Linked DNA regions of Homo sapiens. The protein of the gene in region 5 purifies or fractionates together with the protein of the main gene of each other region. This does not show direct contact. Each region holds a gene or a part of one and is shown on either strand. Other genes may lie near its edges. The genes, in order: RAB3D, MTUS1, ZNF609, ZFC3H1, SLC13A5 and NIPSNAP2.

Region 1 (4,288 bases), on a different chromosome or scaffold from region 5:
TTTTTTTTGTGGCCAGCTAATTTTCAAAAAAATTTTTTGTAGAGTTGGGATCTCTATGTTGCCTAGGCTGGCCTTGAACTCCTGAGCTCAAGGAATCCTCCTGCCTCAGCCTCCCAAAGGGCTGGGATTACAGGCATCAGACACTGTGCCCAGCCTCATTTATTTTTTAATTTTTTTTTTTTTTTTTTTGAGACAGAGTCTCACTCCATCGTCTAGGCTGGAGTGCAGTGGCGCGATCTCGGCTCACTGCAACCTCCACCTCCTGGGTTCAAGCGATTCTCCTGCCTCAGCCTCCCAAGTAGTTGGGATTACAGGTGTGCACCACCATGCTCGGCTAATTTTTGTATATTTATTTATTTATTTGAGACAGAGTTTCGCTCTTTTTGCCCAGGCTGGAGTGCAGTGGCGTGATCTCGGCTCACTGCAACCTCCGCCTTCCGGGTTCAAGCAATTCTCCTGCCTCAGCTTCCAGAGTAACTGGGATTACAGGCATGCGTCACCACGCCTGGCTAATTTTGTATTTTTTAGTAGAGACAGGGTTTCTTCACGTTGGCCAGGCTAGTCTCGAACTCCCGACCTCAGGTGATCTGCCCACCTCGGCCTCCCAAAGTGCTGAGATTACAGGTGTGAGCCACCGTGCCCAGCCCCTAATATTTGTATTTTTTTTTTTTTTTTTTTAGTAGAGATGAGGTTTCACCATGTTGGCCAGGCTGGTCTTAAATTCCTGACCTCAAGTGATCCGCCTGCCTTGGCCTCCCAAAGTACTGGGATTACAGGCATAAGCCACCGCGCCCAGCTCTCGTTTATTTTTATTTATTTGAAACAGGGTCTTGCTCTGTTGCCCAGGCTGGAGTGCTGTGGTGCAATCAAGGCTCACTGCAGCCTCGATGTCTCCAGCAATCCTCCTGCCTCAGCCTCCCAAGTAGCTGGGGTTACAGACGCACGCCACCACACCTGGCTAATTTTTGTTATTTTTAGTAGAGATGAGGTCTCCTTACGATGCCCAAGCTGGTCTCAAACTCCTGGCCTCAAGTGATTCTCCTGCCTCGGCCTCCCAAACTGCTGTAATTACAGGCCACCGCGCCTGGCCTAGCCTACTTTAAGGCCGGCACTGCACTTGACAAACACTAACTCAGATCAGAATCCTCCCACAACTCTGTGAGGTTGGGTACTCTCGCTATGAGCTACTTGACGGATGGGGAAACTGAGGCTCAAAGAGGTTAAGTAACGCGTCCAAAGCCACAAGACTAGAAAGTGGTGGAGCTGGGACTCGAACCAGGCCCAAGACTCTATGCTTTTAACAGCCGTGCGTATAGTAGAAGCTCTTTACAAGCAGCTGGGAAAATGAGATGTTGCTTGGCTAGGACGGGCTCTAGACGCTTGGTGCAGCTTCCAGCCCCTCCCACCCGCTCTCTGAAAGCCCCGCCCAAGACTCGGCCCCTCTTCGTCCTCCCCCATCCCCCGCTCCGGGAACGGCCCTTCCTCCGCCTTCTGGGCGGAGCCCGCGCGGGATCCGGGTGGCTGCAGGCTGCTGGCTTCTGCGGCTGCGGGGTCGGGGTCGCGGCCAGGGCCAAGCCGCAGCGAGTTCACAGGCGGAACCCCTGCAGGCGGCGCCCCCTACGCGAGGTCACCCCTGGGAAGGAGCGCAGCCCACCCGGCCCCTCCGCATCCGAGCAGGTCTGTGGGGTACGGGGGTTTGGGAGGAAGGTAGGGGGTCTGGGGAACAAAGGCGGGGCTGCGGGGAACGCCTCTGCCCTCGCCCCCACCCAGCTGGGCACTTGGGAAGCGCTGATGGGGCGCGGGCGGGGCAGAGAGCCCAGCTGGGGACAGGCGTTGGGACCATATGGTGATGGGGGAAACTCCTGAGTCCACCTGCATTGGCTGGGGCGCCCCAAATCTAGTGAAGGGGAACAGAGGCGAGCCCTCCGGGGCCAGGCTTGAGGGAGGGTCGGCAGATGGTTAGAAAGAGGCGGGACCGACTGACACAGGTGAGCTAAGGCTGGGGGAGGTGGGGGCCCCAGCCTTGCGGCCCTGCCCTGCGTGGGGAAAGGTTTCCTGCCTCTTCTCTTCCCCTCCTTAAACTCGTTCTCCTGGAACACGGGGTGGGGCCGGTTGGGTCCTGGTTTAAAATGGAAAAAAGCCCCAAAGGCAGTTGAGAAATAGCTGTGCCAGGGCTGTCTCTGCCTCTGCCCCGCCTGCATCCAGGCCTTCTGCAGCCTCTCCGTGCGGTTCCCGCAGCGGCCATAGACAGCTGGGGAAACTGAGGCCTGGGAGAGGTTATGAGGGTTGAGGGAGCACCTTGGACTCGGATGAAGCAGCATGTTGGAGTGTGGGCAGATTCAAGGAGCCTAGCCGTGGGACAGATTGCCTGGAAAGACCAAGGGTGGGCGGCAGTGGTCGTGGTGGTGGGGTTGTGTTAATTAAGTGGCTGGGATCGTTTCCTTGGGTATAAGGACTCTCACTCCTGCCTCCGTGGACTGGGGCTGGAGTGAGTCAGCCTTGGGCAGAAGGAGACAGGCCTGGCCCCTTTGACAAATAGAAAATAGCAGTACCCATTTAGGGGGTAGAACTGGACTCTAAACCTGGGCCCTGTACATAGAAAACCCCTTCCCCTTGGAACTCAGAGAAGGGGTTGTATTTGGCATGAGTTGGTGGGCGGCAGGCGCCCCAGTGGCTGACACCTGCCAAAGTCAACACCCAAGCCTTAATCAGGGGCTCTATCCAGCTTATCCAGCTGGCAGGTCCTCCCCCCACCCCACCCCAGCTTACACCTGGGCCACACCGGCTGCACACGCTGGGGCGAAGTCCACACCTGTGCCTTCTCCAGAATCTAGTTCTGCAGGGGCCAGAGCCCCTTACCCTCGGCCTTGCACTTGAACCCTTTGCTAGGCCTCTGGGTTTCCAGATAGGAAAGGTCTCCCCACCCTCCACCCCAATACAGACTCAGTTACGCCACAGGGTGTGAAGATTAAACAGCAGTCACATTTTTTGTGCCCCAGCTCTATACCAGGCACTGTCTAATGACCGTTACGTGTGTTAATACCTTCCCACTGGAAGGAACGTGACCACCCGAGGATGGACTTTTTCTTGTCCTATTCACAGCTGCATTTCCACAGAGAACAGGGCCCGGCAGAGAGTAAGCATTTGTTGAATGAATAAAGAAACACATTTTAGGTCGGGCGTGGTGGCTCATGCCTGTAATCCTAGCACATTGGAAGGCTGAGGCAGGAGGATTGCTTGAGCAGAGGAGTTTGAAACCAGCATGGGCAACATAATGAGACCCCATCTCTACAAAAAAATTTTTTTTAAATTAGCCTGATGTGGTGGCATGTCTGTAGTCCCAGCTACTTGGGAGGCTGAGGCAGGAGGATCACTCGAGCCCAGGAGGTCAAGACTGCAGTGAGCTATGATCACGCCACTGCGCTCCAGCCTCAGGCAACAGAGCGAGATCTTGTCTCTAAAAAAAAAAAAAAAGAAAGAAAGAAACTCATTTTAGGCTCACAACCAACTACTCTTTCAGGAAGGGACTGTGACAAACATCCCATTTTTTAGAAGAGGACACTGAGGTCTAGAGGGGGCAAGCGATGCATCCAGCATCACTTGGTCTCCGAGTGACCGAGCTGAGATTTGAATCCAGGCCTGGTGCATTCACAGGAGCTGTTCTTGATGTTTGATTCCCCTGCAGGACGCCCGTCTCCTCTCCCTGAGGATTTCAGGTCTCCCTGTCCCAGGAGGCTTGTGCCAAGATGGCATCAGCTGGAGACACCCAGGCAGGCCCACGGGATGCAGCAGATCAGAACTTCGACTATATGTTCAAACTGCTACTGATAGGCAACAGCAGTGTGGGCAAGACTTCCTTCCTGTTCCGATACGCGGACGACTCCTTCACTCCCGCCTTCGTCAGTACTGTGGGCATCGATTTCAAGGTCAAGACCGTCTACCGCCATGACAAGAGGATCAAGCTGCAGATCTGGGTAGGCTGGGAGGCTGGCTGTGGGTTGGGGGTGGGGTCCCTCCAGGAAAGTTCATTGGAGGGTTCTTTTTTTTTTTTTGAGACGGAGTCTCACTCTGTTGCCCAGGCTGGAGGGCAGTGGCGGGATCTCGGCTCACTGCAACCTCCATCTCCTGGGTTCAAGCGATTCTCCTGCCTCGACCTTTTTTTTTTTTTTTTCTCTCGAGACAGAGTCTTGCTCTGTCGCCCAGGCTGGAGCACAATGGCACAATGTTGGCTCACTGCAACCTCCGTCTCCTGGGTTCAAGCAATTCTTCTGCCTCAGTCTCCCGAGTA
Region 2 (3,500 bases), on a different chromosome or scaffold from region 5:
TGGGTGTGGGAAATGGACCGGTACAAGTCCAGTCCCAGTTCCATAACTTACTCGCCATAAGACAAAACATTTATCCAAATAGTTCTGGTCCCCAGTCTCCTTCAGTATAAAAGAAAGCACTCATGACCTGCTCTGCCCAACCGCAGGGCTGATGTGATCAGTTCTTAATATCATATTTACAATGTGCTTGCCACAAACATAGGGAATTAATATTTCACTATGCTTAAAAGATGAAAATACAAAATTGCTTTTATATTTAAATACTGTATATTAATAGTAACATTTTACAATTGAAACTCTAAAATACAAATATTCTGGACTATGTTACAGGTGAAAAATCAGAACAGGGAACCTTAGTACTGTAATATCCACAAGTCCAAGATTAGTTCAAAGTGATGACTCAATTGTCTTTCGAATGTGCTGACTGATAGCAAAGAGGCAACATAATTTACAGACTTTACCAAAGATAAAAGTATCTACATTGATTTTTTGAAAACACAGTTCAAATGGAGTATCAGCAGCTCACTAGACTTAAACTTTCAAGAAAAACAAGAGGTGACAAAGCTGGAGTCTGAGAATAAACAATCTCCAATGTTTGCTACAAATCAATTCCTCCTAAGGAAGAGGGAAAGTTATCAGCCTCCTGAGCCTAGAATTTAACTCCCAACCGACAGCACCAGCAGATCCAAGCAACACCTCCAAGGCTAAGCAGCAGAAATTAAATGAAACACCTATCTATGAATCAGAAGATTTAATTTAAAACTAGAGACTAAGGAAGGTTATTAGCACCCATTGATCATTTTCTATATACCTGGCACCTGTGTCAGAATAACCCCAGGAGACAAGGTACTACCCCCACCTTCCAGCGTCCTGATGAGCCAACTGGGGAGCAAAGGTAATGAAATTTCACTCAAGGTCACATGGCTAATAGGAAAATCTCAGACATGAACCCAATTTTGCCTGTTAAGTCTGTGCACTCTCTATGACATTACTGCACCAAATGTCCTGGATACCCATTACATTTTTCCAATTCTATAATAAAGTATGTCCCCAGGGTTTCATAATGGATGTCATGGTGGGCAAAATCTAGCTAAATGGTGAAATACCTCTATTTATTATTTGAAATTCAATAAAAACAGGAGGAAGGAGAGAAGAAAAGCAGTCCCTAGCACTGAAGGATGGAGGGCTAATCATTCAAGATCAAAACAACTCACACCATATAAGGAGAAAATAGTTTTCATTTGATTATATATCTACAAGGTTATACATTTTTAAATGTTCAGCCTAATAAGCTGTAACCAGAACTTTCCAACAAAATAGTCTTATCTGCAATATAAAATGGTTTAGGTTTTCTCATAGAAACAGAAATGTAGGATTTTTCTTACCTCCCTTTTCATTAACTGACCCTACTCTTTTAAATTCAAATTAAGAGTAAGTAAATCCCTTTGCAGAGGTGCCATCAAAAACACTATAAAGCAACATCAGAAGGCTGGGCATGGTGGCTTACGCCTGTAATCCCAGCACTTTGGAAGGACAAGGTGGACAGATCGCCTGAGGCCAGGAGATTGCCACCAGCCTGGCCAACATGGGGAAATTCTGTCTCTACCAAAAATACAAAAATTATCCAGGCGCGGTGGCGCATACCTGTAGTGCCAGGTACTCAGAAGGCTATGGCATGAGAATCACTTAAACCTGGGAGGCGGAGGTTGCAGTGAGCCGAGATCACACCACTGTCCTCCAGCCTGTGACACAGCAAGACTCTGTCTCAAAAAAAATCTGAAAGCAAAACAATTTTTTAACCCTTAAACAGAAAATACTTCTTCACAGCATTAAATCAAGTTCAATAACCAGCAAGTCTAGAGAACTATTGAAAAGTTTTACATAAATGCAAAACTACTCTGAAACACAAATCTTATTAGATGTAATGAGAAAAAAGAATCCTAGACTGCAAAGTTATCTGAATTCCTAAGTTGTACATACATTTTTCTCTAAACAGAAAACAGCCCAAGTCCCTAGTCAAAAGAAATTGTCAACTTGCGATTGTCTGCACGAATAGGGAATGTCATAAATCATGAGTGGAATCAATTACGTACATGTATTTGCACATGGGTATGCCAGATGTTCTCAAACTGACTCTTCATAATAAAACAGTAACTCAGAAGCATCAGGAAACTTGGCACCTTCCAGCTCTGATGCTCTGCTCCCAAAGCCATGGCCGTTCAGTCGGACACAAGACTGAGGGTAAACTACCTTCCCTCTGCTTGCTGAGTATGAAACAATGGATGAGGGGGTGAGGGCAAGAGGAGAGGGCAAGGAGCAAGGCACAGAAAAGCAATAAGGAAATTAATACCTGTGGTTTAAAAGACCTTCCAGTAGCTGTGACTATCTGACAAAAGAATTTCAAATTCCCATGCCATCAGAGCTCTAGATGATTTATTCCAGACCACATCTGGGAGAAATAATTATAAAAGTAAAAATGTACCCAGCATCCGAACATTTAGACCCTATCCTTAAGGAGCTTACAAGATGTAGCAAAAATATACTGGAAAAGGTAACTAAAGATTCTCATTGAGAGAAATTAAGAGACGCCAAAGAGTACAGTGCTAAGTATTTTCCTTCTTAATCCTTTTGGTGAGAAGGAAAAGGGTAAGCATGATTAATGACAAGGATGCTTTATATAACCAAGAATGTCAATACAACCTACGTGACCAAACTTTGGTCAAGTCAGCAGGTGGAATTTTTAATGCAAAGCCCAACGTTAACAACCTGGGAGAATATTTCGAACAACACAAACACTTACTAACATCTCCAAAACTGCACTTTTCACAATGATTGGGGTTTCTCTGACTCCTCCAAGAAAAGAGGTCAAATTCTTTTTTTTCTCTTCTACCTCAGTGTTTGGCCCATAGAAAGTGCTCAAAAATGGCTGAGGCTGAGGAAAACCAAACACAGGCCGGGCACAGTGGCTCACGTCTGTAGTCCCAGCACTTTGGGAGGCCAAGGCCGGTGGATCACCTGAGGTCAGGAGTTCGAGACCAGCCTGATCAACATGGTGAAACCCTGTCTCTACTAAAAATAAAAAATGAAGACGGGCGTGGTGGTGCATGCCTGTAATCCCAGCTACTCAGAAAGCTGAGGCAGGAGAATCGCTTGAACCCAGGAGGCGGACACTGCAGTGAGCCAAGATCACGCCACTGCACTCCAGCCTGGGCAACAAGAGCAAAACTCTGTCTCAAAAAAAAAGATAAAAGAAAAAAAAATCAAACATAATATTCTAACAGCAAGGATTTTTACTCATGCTTTTTATTTATCATTTTACATGAAATATAAGCCTAACTATACACTACGTATAAATGACTTGGTTCTGTATGTGGGGCCTAGATTGGGGATCTAATACAACACGTGAATTTTTCTTGGTAGCTAGGTCTTGGCATGGCTCAGCCCTTTTAAATCCATTTCTCATTCTCCAATATCCTTCTACCCTATCCTGACCCACCAGC
Region 3 (3,500 bases), on a different chromosome or scaffold from region 5:
AAAAACATAAAAATAAAAAAAATTACGACTGGGCGCAGTGGCTCACGCCTTAATCCAGGTACTTTGGGAGGCCGAGGTGGGTGGATCACAAGGTCAGGAGATCAAGACCATCCTGGCTAACATGGTGAAACCCCGTCTCTACTAAAAATACAAAAAATTAGCCAGGTGTGGTGGCGTGCACCTGTAATCCCAGCTACTCGGGAGGCTGAGGCAGGAGAATCGTGTGAACCTGGGAGGCAGAGGTTGCAGTGAGCTGAGATTGCGCCAGTGCATTCCAGCCTGGGTGACAGTGCCAGACTCCATCTCAAAATAAATAAATAAATAAATAAAATAAAATAAAAATTGGCTGGGTGCAGTGGCTCATGCCTGTAATCCCAGCACTCTGGGAGGCTGAGGCAGGTGGATTACTTGAGGTCAGGAGTTCCAGACCAGCCTGACCAAGATGGTGAAGCCCCATCTCTACTAAAAATACAAAAAAAATTAGCTGGGCATGGTGGCGTGTGCCTGTAATCTCAGCTACTCGGGAGGCTGAGGCAGGAGAATTGCTTGAACCTGGGAGGCGGAGGTTGTAGTGAGCCAAGATTGCACCACTGCACTCTAGCCTGGGCAACAGAGTGAGACTCCATCTCAAAAAAAATAATAATACTAAAATAAAATAAAAAACATTAAAATAGTTTACAAAGGTAAAGAATCCTTAAAATTATACATCTCTCCTGCTAATCTCAATTCCGTTGAACCCCTGTATAAGGACAGCCCTTATTTGTGAGGAAGATAGACGATTACCATACGGTATTTCCACTTCCTCCCAGGGCAACAGTTACCTGTCGGTACCAGAGTATTGGATCCATCTCTGCCTGTCGACCACACTCAGCACCTGTCTTGGCCTCAGAGGCCTCCTTGCTTAGGTGGCTGGCATCACTCAGCTTCACTTTAAGGCCTTCAGGGGCCTGGCCCGGGAGTTTTGAAGAGTCATCTAACTTGGGAATGATGACTGATTTGGCTGGGTCAGCCCCTGGCTCCTTGGCCTTGCCAGGTCCTGATTTCACCAGGTCTGTCAGGCTGGGGGCCTTGGTGAGAGTTGGTGGAATTGACGGCTTTTGCTTCCACTCTTCCTTGAGTGCTGCCTCCCGCTCCTTCAGGCCCATCTCTGCCTTCTTGTCCACTCCCCGCTGCTGCTGCTCTAAGCTCTGGCGTTTCTGCTGTTCTTCGTACTGCTGCCGGTAAGCCGTGTTAGTGCTCAGAAGGTGGGTGTGGTAACTCTGGTCGCTGTAGCCATAGGGGGGTACATAGGCATACTGGTTGTAGTACAGGGACTGCATGTACATATTGGGACGCTGCTGGATGACCGAGGGCTGCTGACTGGAACTGCTCAGCTCGGGCTTCTTTTCTTCACAGATATCGTTCTTCACTTTCCCTTCTATGCTCTCAGGTTCCTCATCCCTTTTTGTCTTCAGGGCCTGGCTCTCCACTCCTGCCTGGCTGCTGGGGTTCAGAGCCCCAGGGCTGGACTGTGCATAACTTGGAGAATAGTAACTCTCAAAGCCTTGGTAATATGGTGAGTCTTTGCTCTGAGGCTGAGGGGGAAAAAGAGTTTTCTTAGCCCCTTCTTTAACCAACTGTTCGGCGTCCTTTGATTTGACACTGTCTACCTTGCCCTCCCCATCCTCCCCAGCATCAGAGATGTCAGAGTATGCAGGGCTGTTGGTTTTGACTGAGCTGGCTTCAGCTCCATTCTGGGTCACCACATGTAAGGGAGTCAGGGGCTGAGTAGGGGTAGTGTTTTCAAGGCGGCTACTGCCTCCAATGGAAGGGCTGGGGGCATTGTCCGTGAAACTGTAGATCTTGTCGGCTTCAGCCTTGATGCTAGCCAGTCGGCTTTGGTGGGGGTCTGATGAGCCATTTAGGAGCCCCTCCATTTTCATCCCATCTCCTGAAGATTCCCTGAATGGGCTTTTGCCTTCCTCTGCTCGACACACCTTCCCAGGGGTCAGAGGACTTTCAAGTTCCTTTGAAGATTCCTTCTTTTTTTTGTCTTTCTTTTTCTTGTCCTTGGCTGGAGTCAAGGCAGGGTTGACTGTGAAAGGTTCTCCCATAACAGTGGGCTTGGGCTGAATGGGCTTGAGTTGGGGACTGTTGGGCATGGCTTGTGCCACTGTGGCGGTCAAGCCTGAGGAAGAGCCTGGGCTCGCTGCTGTGAAGGTGGCTGTCTGGAAGGTGTAGATTTGCTGTGGGGGGATGGCAGGGGCAATGGGACGGGCTGACTTTAGGCTCTTGGAAGGAATCTTTTCAGGTTTTAAACTAGAGGGTTTTTTACATTTTTCTTTTTCCATACACTTCCTTTCTAAAGAATCAAAGGCATCATTGCTTGTTTCATCCATCACTGAGGGTCCATCATCAGAGCCATCATTGGATAAGGCCCCAAGGTCTGTGTCCCCTTCCCCACTCAACTTTTTCTTACAGAGGCCTTTTGTGCTGAATTTGCTTGAAGGAGAAGGGCTATGGGGCTCTACAAGTCGAACTTTGGGGGTAGCTGAGCGGGCAGGGGACAAGGAACCTTTTTGTGAGACAGATGCACCGTTGCAGCTCCCAAGATCTGCATGGAGAATAGGTTCCTCTCCGTACTCACTGTCCCCATCCGCTTCCGGCTTGCTGTCATCATCTGTATGGGCATGAGCTTGGTGGTACTTAAGTCCATTGATGTGCTTGTACTTCTTGTTGCAGTTTGGGTGGGGACAGTCAATTAGGACGGGGGAGGGGCAGTTTCTGTCCAGAACAGTGGGTTCTACCTTTGTCCCAGGAAGGGGGCCAGTGGCTGAGCCCATGGAATTAGTACGGACACGCTTGCTCCCTTTGGAGTCCTCTGAGCTAGAATTCAGCTCCATGTCTGAAAGGGGTTTGTTTTTCCGCTTATTAGCTGAGGAAGGGCTGGCCTTGACATCCTCAGAAGTGCTGCTGGCAGGTGGGCGGTGCTCTGAAGAATTCTGGCTGCCCCGACGGCCTTTGCTATTGGCTCCTGCCCGGGTTTTGCTGCTGTTACTGGTCCCTTTGCTGTCAGAGGCTGTGGCTGTCTCATTGACAGGTGTATTACTGTTGGGACGCATGCGTTTGCCTCTACCCCGGCCATTGCGCATTTCCAGGTCACTGGTCGGGGAGTCACAGAACCTTGGCAAAGGATAAACACAACAGAATATTATTAAGAAGAGAAAACATCTTCAAAGCAGTTTAGCTGTAGCCTCCAGAACTGTCCAGATGGTGACTATCATTTTCAATGAATATGATTTGTTAAAAGAAATTCTGATTGTGAATTGCACTAAATGGTGAACTCCTGGGATACACGTTAGCTGCAAATTATTCCCAAACATTTACCTCTAAAACCATGCAGAATCTGTTCCGTAAGATAGTCAAGTCAACATTTCCTATATACAGCCATAGTCATGGTTTCAGAAAAGATGTTAGAGATCATACAGGAAATTGAGGCCAGGCATGCTAAATGACTTGTC
Region 4 (3,500 bases), on a different chromosome or scaffold from region 5:
AAATTTAACAAAAAAACTTAGATTATAGATGAATTTTCTCCCTTTTTAATTTTTCAAGAAAAATGAATCGATATTTTTAAATTACTAAATTCCATTTAATGTATGTGCAGCTAATGCCCACTTTCATTACGTGCCCATATTTGAATTTAGTAAGTACCATATAAACAGTCCACTTACAAAATCACTAGTGTCATAATTACCAGTAGTATCCACAGACAGTCCACCTAGTTAGGTTATAGCATCATTCCTTCTGTGCCAGGAAAGTCCATAATTAGCTGTATGTTAGAGATTATTTTCTGAAGGAAGAGGGGAGAAACTGAATGCTTTGTCACAGATGCGGATAGTTTACACTTCAGGGGGCCAGGCGCGGTGGCTCACGCCTGTAATCCCAGCACTTTGGGAGGCCGAGGCAGGAGGATCACTTGAGGTCAGGAGTTTGAGACCAGCCTGGCCAACACAGTGAAACCCCATCTCTACTAAAAATTAAAAAATTAGCCAGGCGTGGTGGTGCAGGCCTGTAGTCCCAGGTACTTGAGACGCTGAGGCAAGAGAATTGCTTGAACTCAGGAGGCGGAGGTTGCAGGGAGCCAAGATCACACCACTGCACTCCAGCCTGGGCAACAGAGGGAGACCTCATCTCAAAAAAAAGAAAAAAAAAAACACTTTAAAATAGTACTCAAAATATATCTATTTTTCTCCTACAGACAAGGGAAAATGTTATGAAAATAATCTGAAGCAACTGTTCTTACTTTCTTCTCTAACACAGTGATACACAAAAGGTAACTTTTTCCTTAGAAACAGCTACAAAATTTCAAACTACAATTTTTATTCTAAACAATTCATACACGAGAATTGTTATACCTCATTTTTCCAGGCCAGATATTAGCAAGAGAAAAGACAGTACCTCCTGTGGTTTTAATACATCATTTATAGATTTTTTTTTTTTTTTTTTTTTTTTGAGACAGAGTCTCGCACTGTCAGCCAGTCTGGAGTGCAGTGGTGCGATCTCGGCTCACTGCAACCTCCGTCTCCCAGGCTCAAGCAATTCTCCTGTCTCAGCCTCCTGAGTAGCTTGGATTACAGGTGCGTGCCACCATGCCCAGCTAATTTTTGTATTTTTAGTAGAGATGGAGTTTCACCATGTTGACAAGGCTGGTCTTGAAATCCTGACCTCAGGTAATCCGCCCACCTTGACCTCCCAAAGTGCCGGGATTACAGGTGTGAGCCACTGCACCCAGCCTATAGATTATTTTCAGTTGGCTAGGATGTAAAATACAGTACCCCAAATACGGTTCTTCTGTTTAAACACCTCACAGGGCAAGCAGCAGAAAAGGTTTTTAAACTCTCCTGATGACCAGTTCTAAAAATGAGAATTACCATCATCTAAGAAACAAAAATAAGCAATAAGTACATCTGAAAATCTTAACAGTTCTACAGCAAAACTGTTCTAGTAAATCTCTGGTTCTCTGATCTCTTCAAAGCCAAGTATCCTGAAAGAAAACTAGTTTCTCTGTACCCTTCTTACCAAATGGAATCTGGTTTCTGTCCCATTAATCTAGAGAGACTGCTGTGGCTAAGTTTCCCTATCAATGTTTTCAAACTTTATTTTTTTTTACCTGACCCCTCTGAGAATCTGACACCATAAACCACTTCTCTCTTGGCTTCCATAACTCCGCATCTCCCTTTGTTTCCCTATTTGTGTTTTGTCTTTTAAGTCTCCATTGAGTCTTTTCTCTCTAACTTGTGAAATAATGGTGCTCTTCAGGGAGCACTACTTAGCCTCTTTCTCATTTTGAGCATTCTAATGCACCTCCACAGTTTTACCTACCACAGGAGAGTTTACCCTGGTGATAAGATATTTCTCTTATCTCCTACAAGCCATCCTTCATACTGCTGCTGCCAGAGTAATCTTTCTAGAATACAAATATAAGATCATTCCCCTTGTTTAAATTTCCCTAATAAAAAAGTCCAAAATCCTGAGAATAAATATAATCTGACCTGTGCTTTCCTTTCCAAACTTACTTTTTCCTTGTTCATCACAATTTTTGCATAGCTTTGTGTCTAAGTTTGTCTGTTCTTCAACTTAACCCCAATTCAAGTGTCACCTCTGTGAAGCCTGAGTTTCTCACTCTCCCTTCCCCTCTTACACACTCTTTGTATGTAAGTTCTGTAATTATCTGCATTTACATCTTACTTTTCACTGGAGCCATTTAAAGGCACAACTGCAATTAAAAAAAAAAGAAAAGAAAGGGAAATGATTAAATACACTAACAAAAATGCTAAATAGAAAAATAAGGAAAAGCAATTGAGTTACAACTATAACTGACTAATCTCCTTCAAGGCTAAAGAAAATCTATCCCTATCTATACAGAAGCCTAAGATCAAACCAACACTTACCAGATTTAATTTTAAGCTTGTCAAGATACAATTTCTAACTGAACCTTGGTTTAAACAAAAAGAAGTGCTATTCAACCTTTTCAGCTGCAGCTGAAAATGGAATGACTTTTTACTGATGAGAGACACTAGCCTAATTATGTTAGCTCTCCTCAGATTTGAAAGTTTAAAAGAGTAGTCATTCAAGGGAGACATGCTAAGATGTACTGACAAAGTGTCTATCATTAAGAAAAATTAAGGGTGAAAATAAGAACTGCAATTGAATCTAGTTTATTCTATTTCTTTAAAGTTGCAACTAGCATATCTTAGTTATTACAGTGAAAGGAGTTATGGCAAAAATAGAAATAAACCCTATACTCAGGCTACTTTACTTCTAAATTACAGAAATATGCCACAGAGTAACCTGCATTCTTTCTTTATACAGTATTTGTAAAATAAAAAAGGTATTATTATAATCACATAGTGGAAATATGAATTAAACTGAGTACAACCTTGATATTAAATAAATTTGAATGAAGTGTTGTAACAAATATTTTGTTTGCTCACATTATATAAAAGTAGCTGGGAACTACGTTTTCCTTCTCAAATTCTTAAAAAGAACACCACCTCTAGGATGGATTACTGATACTTCATAGGGAAAACAATGAGCAGGACATCAAAACAAGCATCCTTTTAAGTGCAGCATCTGTGAAAAGAAAAACAACAAGATATCTTATTTATGACAAGTTACTACGGAAATCAAAGTCACACAAGCAGACTGGATATTTTCTGGTACTTTTTTTTTTTTGCAACATCATATGCCAGTTTACTAATAAAAACATGCAAGCTTACCAATTAATAAAGGTCTATGGTAGAGGCCCAAAATAGTATTGAATAAACACGCAGAAAGAGGACAAAAGCAGAAAGCCCACTCACCTCCCCCTTTTCTAATACAGAATAAAAATTTTAAGAAAAACCTTTGAGCTCCCATAGTACTTTTTTATATACATACTTCAGTTTCAACTTTTTATACTAAACTGCAACTACTTATTTTCATTTGTTTCCCTAATACAAACTACAGGTTTCATCTTTGTACCTTTAAAAAACACATATAAACTGGTGGCTCT
Region 5 (2,575 bases):
AAGGTGATGGTCATTGAGCTGGGCTGCAGAGGAGTGTGAGGTGCAGACACCATGAGGTACCCACAGCCAGGAAAACGAGGATGGTCGGGGAGACGCGCCAGCGAAGAGCTGGGCCCCTGCGTGGGACCCCTCAGTGGTTCCCAGGGGGCGTGGGACTTGCGCAGTCCTTTCAGAGGGCTGTTTACCAACAGGAACCGTAACATTAAACCTGCTCAGACCCCTTGACTCAGCAATTTCATGTCTGGGAATATATCTTAGGAAAATAATCAGAGATGCCTACCAACATATGTGATGATGATGTATGACAGAATTATTATACAAATATATCCATAGTAACAGGGGGTTTGCTGAAATAAATTATCATATATTCATATAATATGACATTATCAGGCCATTAAAAATCACAGTTTCAAAGAGTAATAAAATGGGAACATGCTCATAGTATAGTTTTTTAAAATTGCAGATGGTATATGGCTAAAAATGTCTAATAATGCAAAGATGTATACAGACCTTAATCCTCTAGCCTCCTCCCTAGAGATGACCTCTGTTAATTTCTCAAATATTTTTCTGGATATTTTACACACTCACACACTTTTTTTGAGACAGAGTTTCACTCTTGTCACCCAGGCTGGAGTGCAATGGTGTGATCTTGGCTCACTGCAACCTCCACCTCCCGGGTTCAAGAGATTCTCCTGCCTCAGCCTCCCGAGTAGCTGGGATTACAGGTGCCTGCCACCTTGCCTGGCTAATTTTTTGTATTTTTAGTAGAGACGGGGTTTCACCACATTGGTCAGGCTGGTCTCAAACTCCTGACCTCAGGTGATCCGCCTGCCTTGGCCTCCCAAAGTGCTGGGATTACAGGCGTGAGCCACTGCGCCCGGCCATTCATCTTAATTTTTAAAAAATCTAACCATGAAGCCTTGGTTATCTTGGAGAGCTTTCCTGATTAGCACAAAAAGAAAAAAAAATCCAATTCTTTACAGCTGCATACTATTCCATTATTTGTATGTGTCATATTTTATTTAACCATCCTGCTATTAGTGACCATTGAGTTGGCTTCCTGTGTTTTGCCGTTACATGGTTGCAACAAACATGTTTGCATGTGTCTGCCCTCATGTGCATGATACATGATTGATTTGATAGATTTTAGGAATTACATCATTCATTCATACACTCAGCAAATATTTAATGAGTGCCTACTCTCTGATAGGTGCTGTTGGATGTGGCTAAATTTTAAAGTGTAGAATTTAAAAGGTGGCTACCAAATTCCATGTGCAAAATGACCCCACGCATGTATAAAAACACACACATCCACAGATTTATATGCGGGAGAGAAGATGTGGTCCCTGGCCTCTAGGCTCTCTCAGTCTGTGGCAAGACAGACAGACATGTGCACGCGGCACTGTAAGGTTGAGCACAGTCTAAGTACTCAGCATGGTCTCTGGCACATAGTAGGTGCCCAAGAAATACATGTCGAATGAATTGAGGGGGTAAGGCCTTCTAGGGCAGGTGGCCTCTGACCTCAGCCTTCAGTGTTCCGTAGGTGGAATTATCTGCCAGAGACGTGGCAAAAGGGAGAGGAACCAAGACTGAGGCACAGAGGTTCAAACGTACCCGGCACATTCAGAGAATCCTTTTCAGAATCACGTCCCCAAGAGCTTCTGTGTTCTGTACGGTGATGTTGCAGTGCTGTTTTTCCGCAGTCTCGCTCCATCGGCCTCAATCCGCTGTACATCATGCTGCCCTGTACCCTGAGTGCCTCCTTTGCCTTCATGTTGCCTGTGGCCACCCCTCCAAATGCCATCGTGTTCACCTATGGGCACCTCAAGGTTGCTGACATGGTAACACAGCTGTTTTTATTTACTCCCGTCGGACTATAACGCTGTTGTCATAAGGGATGCCCCATTTATGAATGACAGAGTTTCAAAACGATGTCATGTGACTTGGGAATGCCACGGAACATCCAGACCTGTAGCCATTGTTGACATTTATAATGCAGCTTTTCTTCTTTTTCTGAGATGATCTCAAGCCTCACACACTGTTCTTTCTCTGAGGTGGGTTATAGACTCTCCCACCTGGAGAAGCCTGTGCAGGCACCAGGGGAGTCCTTGGAAGGGGTGAAGGTGGGGCTGAGGGACTCATATGGCCAAGGATGAACTTGACAAATTAGCAAGAACCATGAAGATAGGCAGGGCAGGCTTAGGCAGCAGGGGGATGCTAATGACAGTCACAGAGATTTGTAGGGGTGCCTGAAGAGGTAGAAGCAGGGAGAGGGAGAGAGAGAGCACTGCCTGGGAGTAGATGATGCCTTGGAAACAAATGTAGTCAGAGGAAGAACTCTTCATTAGCTCTGTCACCTTTGCTGGGAGAAGGGCAGCTTTGCAGCTCTGGGCTGGGAAAGAGGCAAGTGTTTGAGCCCAAGAGGCCAGAAATGTACCTGGGACCAATCGGGTGTTCGTTATCTCAGAGCCTCTGCTGGGTATCTCAGGGACTCCATGAGCATTTTCAAAAAAAAAGGTGGGTCCCAGAAACCATGGACTGCAAACTTGACTCCAATCCCCAGTAAAATATCTAC
Region 6 (3,500 bases), on a different chromosome or scaffold from region 5:
GAGCCACTGCGCCCAGCCTTCTACAATAGTATTTCTAATCTGCTTGGTAGACTTGCTTAAGCACCCAGATACCACCAGGTAAACATTAAGAGGAAAAGAAAGAGCAACTCCAGGTATTAAAAAGGGGGACCAGGAATTTAAACAAGGGACAAGAAAAACTCTCATGAGAGCAAATTCCCCAGTACTTCATGAAATGAACACATGGATTTCATACTACAATAATAGAAATTCCTATTCTTATGCAGCAACGGTATTTTAGAAGTAGGGCTCTAAATTTCACATGATACTGGCAGCCTTTTTCTTTCTTTCTTTCTTTCTTTTTTTTTGCTTAAAAAATCAGTTTGCTGCTTTATTTATTTATTTTTGAGGCAGGGTCTCATTGCACTTGCTGGAGTGCAGTAGTGCAATCTCGGCTCACTGCAACCTCTGCCTCCCAGGTTCCAGCAATTCTCCCACCTCAGCCTCCTGACTATCTGGGACTACAGGTGCATGCCACCACATCCGGCTAATCTTTGTATTTTTAGTAGGGACAGGGTTTCATCATGTTGGCCAGGTTGGTCTCGAATTCCTGGCCTTAAGTGATCCGCCAGCCTCAGCCTCCCAGAGTGCTGAGATTGCAAGGGTGAGCTGCCGCACTCAGCCTAGTTTGCTGCTTTCTTGAACAAACATTACAGAGCAATCTTCTCCCCAATATGATGTTCTTTTAATTTAAAAACCAATTCATAGGATATTGTCTCAAATAGGTAGAAACCAGATATAAAGATTTTTGAATGATGTGAACTTACAAATACAAATATATTGGCCGGGAGTGGTGGCTCACGCTTCTAAATCCCAGCTCTCTGGGAGGCCGAGGCAGGTGGATCACCTGAGGTCAGGAGTTCAAGACCAGCCTGGCCAACATGGTGAAATCTTGTCTCTACTAACACTACAAAAAAAAAAAAAAATAGCTGGGTGTGGTGGCACACGCCTGTGATCCCAGCTACTCAGGAGGCTGAGGTAGGAGAATCGCTTGAACCCAGGAGGTGGAGATTGCAGTGAGCCAAGTCGTGCCACTGCACTCCAGCCTGGGCTACACAGCAAGACTCAATCTCAAAAAAAGTAATAATAATAAAATAAAATAAAATAAATTAAAAATAAAATGTGCTCTATAAATAATTATAAAGAAATATAAAAGCACGTTTTCACATCCTTCAAAGATTAAAAAGAAGCAAACTCACTTTAAACAAGCAAAATAACAATACCAGTAAATGCAATTTTTCTTGAAAGATAAAAACATATAGTATTAAGTGGCATTTGCAGATGTAAGTTGAAGATGCTTCCAATTTGTGTTTACTATATATAAAAATTCCTAAAAATTAAGAAAGCATTAATGGTGGTTTCCCTGAGAAAATGGTTTAAAGGGATAGAGGGGAAAGACACACAGCTTTCTCCATATAATGTCTATATTGTGCTTTTCTCTTCTGTATTTTTTTTTTCTTTGAGACAGGGTCTCACTTTGTCACTCAGGCTGGAGTGCAGTGGCGTGATCTTGGCTCACTGTAGCCTCGACCTCCCGGGTTCAAGCTATCCTCCTGTCTCAACCCCTCCCAAGTAGCTGGGACTACAGGTGCCCAGCACCACATCCAACTAATTTTTGTATTTTTTTGTAGAGACAGGGTTTCACCATGCTGCCCAGGTTGGTCTTGAATTTCTGAGCTCAAGTGACCTGCCTGCCTCAGCTTCCCAAAGTCCTGGGATTATAGGCGTGAACCACCACACCCAGCCATATTCCAATAAAAATGAAAGCACATTTTGTCAATTAGTTTGAAGTGTTTTACGTACACTACATTTAGGGATATCTGTTTAATAATATCATGGGCTGGGCACAGTGGCTCATGCTTGTAATCCCAGCACTTTGGGAGGCCAAGGAGGCGGGTGGATCACCTGAGGTCGGGAAACCAGACTGACCAACATGCAGAAACCCCGTCTCTACTAAAAATATAAAATTAGCCAGGCATGGTGGCGCATGCCTGTAATCCCAGCTACTCAGGAGGCTGAGGCAGGAGAATCGCTTGAACCCGGGAGGTGCAGGGTGTAGTGGGCCGAGATCACGCCACTACACTCCAGCCTGGGCAACAAGAGTGAAACTCTGTCTCAAAAAAAAAAAAAAAGAAAAAGAAAAAAGAAACTTACGCATTACTTTAAGGCAACCATATAAAATTAGTGATACACAAAGTAGAAAGTTTTAAGATTTGTTTATGGGACTATGTAATTTCTGTATGTTCTTTTTTTTTTTTGAGACAGAGTCTTGCTCTGTTGCCCAGGCTGGAGGGCAATAGTGGCACAATCTCAGCTCACTGCAACCTCCGCCTCCTGGGTTCAAGTGATTCTCCTGCCTCAGCCTCCTAAGCAGTTGAGACTAGCGGCACCCACCACCACACCCATCTAATTTTTGTATTTTTAGTAGAGGTGGGTTTTCACCATGTTGGCCAGGCTGGTCTTGAACCCCTGACCTCAGGTGATCCACCTGCCTCGGCCTCCCAAAGTGCTGGAATTATAGGTGTGAGCCACTGTGCCCAGCCAATTTCTGTGTTTATTTTAGATTTTAAGTTCATTAAACAGAAATTGTGTCTACAATTTTTTTTGTTAAATAAATTGTAAAAGCTTAGGAATAACAATTATGAACAATTAAGAAAGGGATATAATAAAAAGTGTCTAAAAATACTGACTAGGGAGTTTCACTTAAAATAAGAAATACTAAAGCAATGACTACTAATAGTTTTATGTATATCCTTCCAGAAATACAGAGGCAAACATATATTATGTATATTTATAGACAGATAATATTTTCACTGATAAAGGATGCCTTTGAAATAAAAATCACCCCAACTGAGCATTTATTTCATATCTCAGAAACACCAAAGTCAGCCTGGGCAGCATAGGAAGACCCTGTCTCTACAAAAAAAAATAAAAAGAGTAGCTGGGCATGGTGGCTCGTGCTTATGGTCCTAGCTACCCAGGAACCTGAGGCAGGAGGATCGCTTGAGCCCACAAGTTCAATGCTGTAGTGAGCTATGATCATGCACTGTACTCCAGCCCGGGCAACAGAGCAAGACCACCTCTAAAACAAACAAACAAATAATAATACCAAAGGGATTCCCCTTTGGGTGGGTACAATGAGGTAAGGGATGTGACAATGCTAGTAATCGAAAAATGCAGAGCAGGGGGTGAGACTAAATCAACACAGCACACACAAAAGAACCTGAGTGGCATTTGCTTGTGAACTTGGGCAGCAATCGTCTTGACAAATGAAAAACAAGCCGGCCAGTACTACCCCCAACCGTCAAACTGAAATCTTTGAGTGTCAGGTGACCAAAGCTGCCTAACATGCCCAACCTATCTAGTCATTCGAGTCGCAGCTATGCCAACGGCTGCCCAAATGATAAGATCTGGCTTGGGCCTGGGTTCTTAACTGACAGTGACAATCGCCAAGATGGTAGGGGGCACTTTCCAGAGGATAA

The links.
Region 1: the proteins of SLC13A5 (region 5) and RAB3D purify together in Homo sapiens (affinity purification with mass spectrometry; one large-scale study listed by BioGRID and IntAct). This does not show direct contact.
Region 2: the proteins of SLC13A5 (region 5) and MTUS1 purify together in Homo sapiens (affinity purification with mass spectrometry; one large-scale study listed by BioGRID and IntAct). This does not show direct contact.
Region 3: the proteins of SLC13A5 (region 5) and ZNF609 purify together in Homo sapiens (affinity purification with mass spectrometry; one large-scale study listed by BioGRID and IntAct). This does not show direct contact.
Region 4: the proteins of SLC13A5 (region 5) and ZFC3H1 purify together in Homo sapiens (affinity purification with mass spectrometry; one large-scale study listed by BioGRID and IntAct). This does not show direct contact.
Region 6: the proteins of SLC13A5 (region 5) and NIPSNAP2 purify together in Homo sapiens (affinity purification with mass spectrometry; one large-scale study listed by BioGRID and IntAct). This does not show direct contact.

What each region holds. Positions count from the first base shown.
Region 1 is NC_000019.10:11,336,858-11,341,145, reverse strand, and holds the start of RAB3D (ras-related protein Rab-3D), read left to right. Parts: upstream 1-1,488; 5' UTR 1,489-1,677; intron 1,678-3,685; 5' UTR 3,686-3,746; coding exon 3,747-3,974; intron 3,975-4,288. UniProt on the Homo sapiens protein: The small GTPases Rab are key regulators of intracellular membrane trafficking, from the formation of transport vesicles to their fusion with membranes.
Region 2 is NC_000008.11:17,791,095-17,794,594, forward strand, and holds part of MTUS1 (microtubule-associated tumor suppressor 1), read right to left. Parts: intron 1-3,500. UniProt on the Homo sapiens protein: Cooperates with AGTR2 to inhibit ERK2 activation and cell proliferation. May be required for AGTR2 cell surface expression. Together with PTPN6, induces UBE2V2 expression upon angiotensin-II stimulation.
Region 3 is NC_000015.10:64,673,578-64,677,077, reverse strand, and holds part of ZNF609 (zinc finger protein 609), read right to left. Parts: intron 3,163-3,500; coding exon 822-3,162; intron 1-821. UniProt on the Homo sapiens protein: Transcription factor, which activates RAG1, and possibly RAG2, transcription. Through the regulation of RAG1/2 expression, may regulate thymocyte maturation.
Region 4 is NC_000012.12:71,657,349-71,660,848, forward strand, and holds part of ZFC3H1 (zinc finger C3H1 domain-containing protein), read right to left. Parts: exon of another isoform or gene 3,023-3,500; intron 1-3,022. UniProt on the Homo sapiens protein: Subunit of the trimeric poly(A) tail exosome targeting (PAXT) complex, a complex that directs a subset of long and polyadenylated poly(A) RNAs for exosomal degradation. The RNA exosome is fundamental for the degradation of RNA in eukaryotic nuclei.
Region 5 is NC_000017.11:6,686,795-6,689,369, reverse strand, and holds part of SLC13A5 (Na(+)/citrate cotransporter), read left to right. Parts: intron 1-1,533; coding exon of another isoform or gene 1,534-1,593; exon of another isoform or gene 1,594-1,703; coding exon 1,704-1,841; exon of another isoform or gene 1,842-2,017; intron 2,018-2,575. UniProt on the Homo sapiens protein: High-affinity sodium/citrate cotransporter that mediates the entry of citrate into cells, which is a critical participant of biochemical pathways.
Region 6 is NC_000007.14:55,971,085-55,974,584, reverse strand, and holds part of NIPSNAP2 (protein NipSnap homolog 2), read right to left. Parts: intron 1-3,500. UniProt on the Homo sapiens protein: Protein involved in mitophagy by facilitating recruitment of the autophagy machinery required for clearance of damaged mitochondria.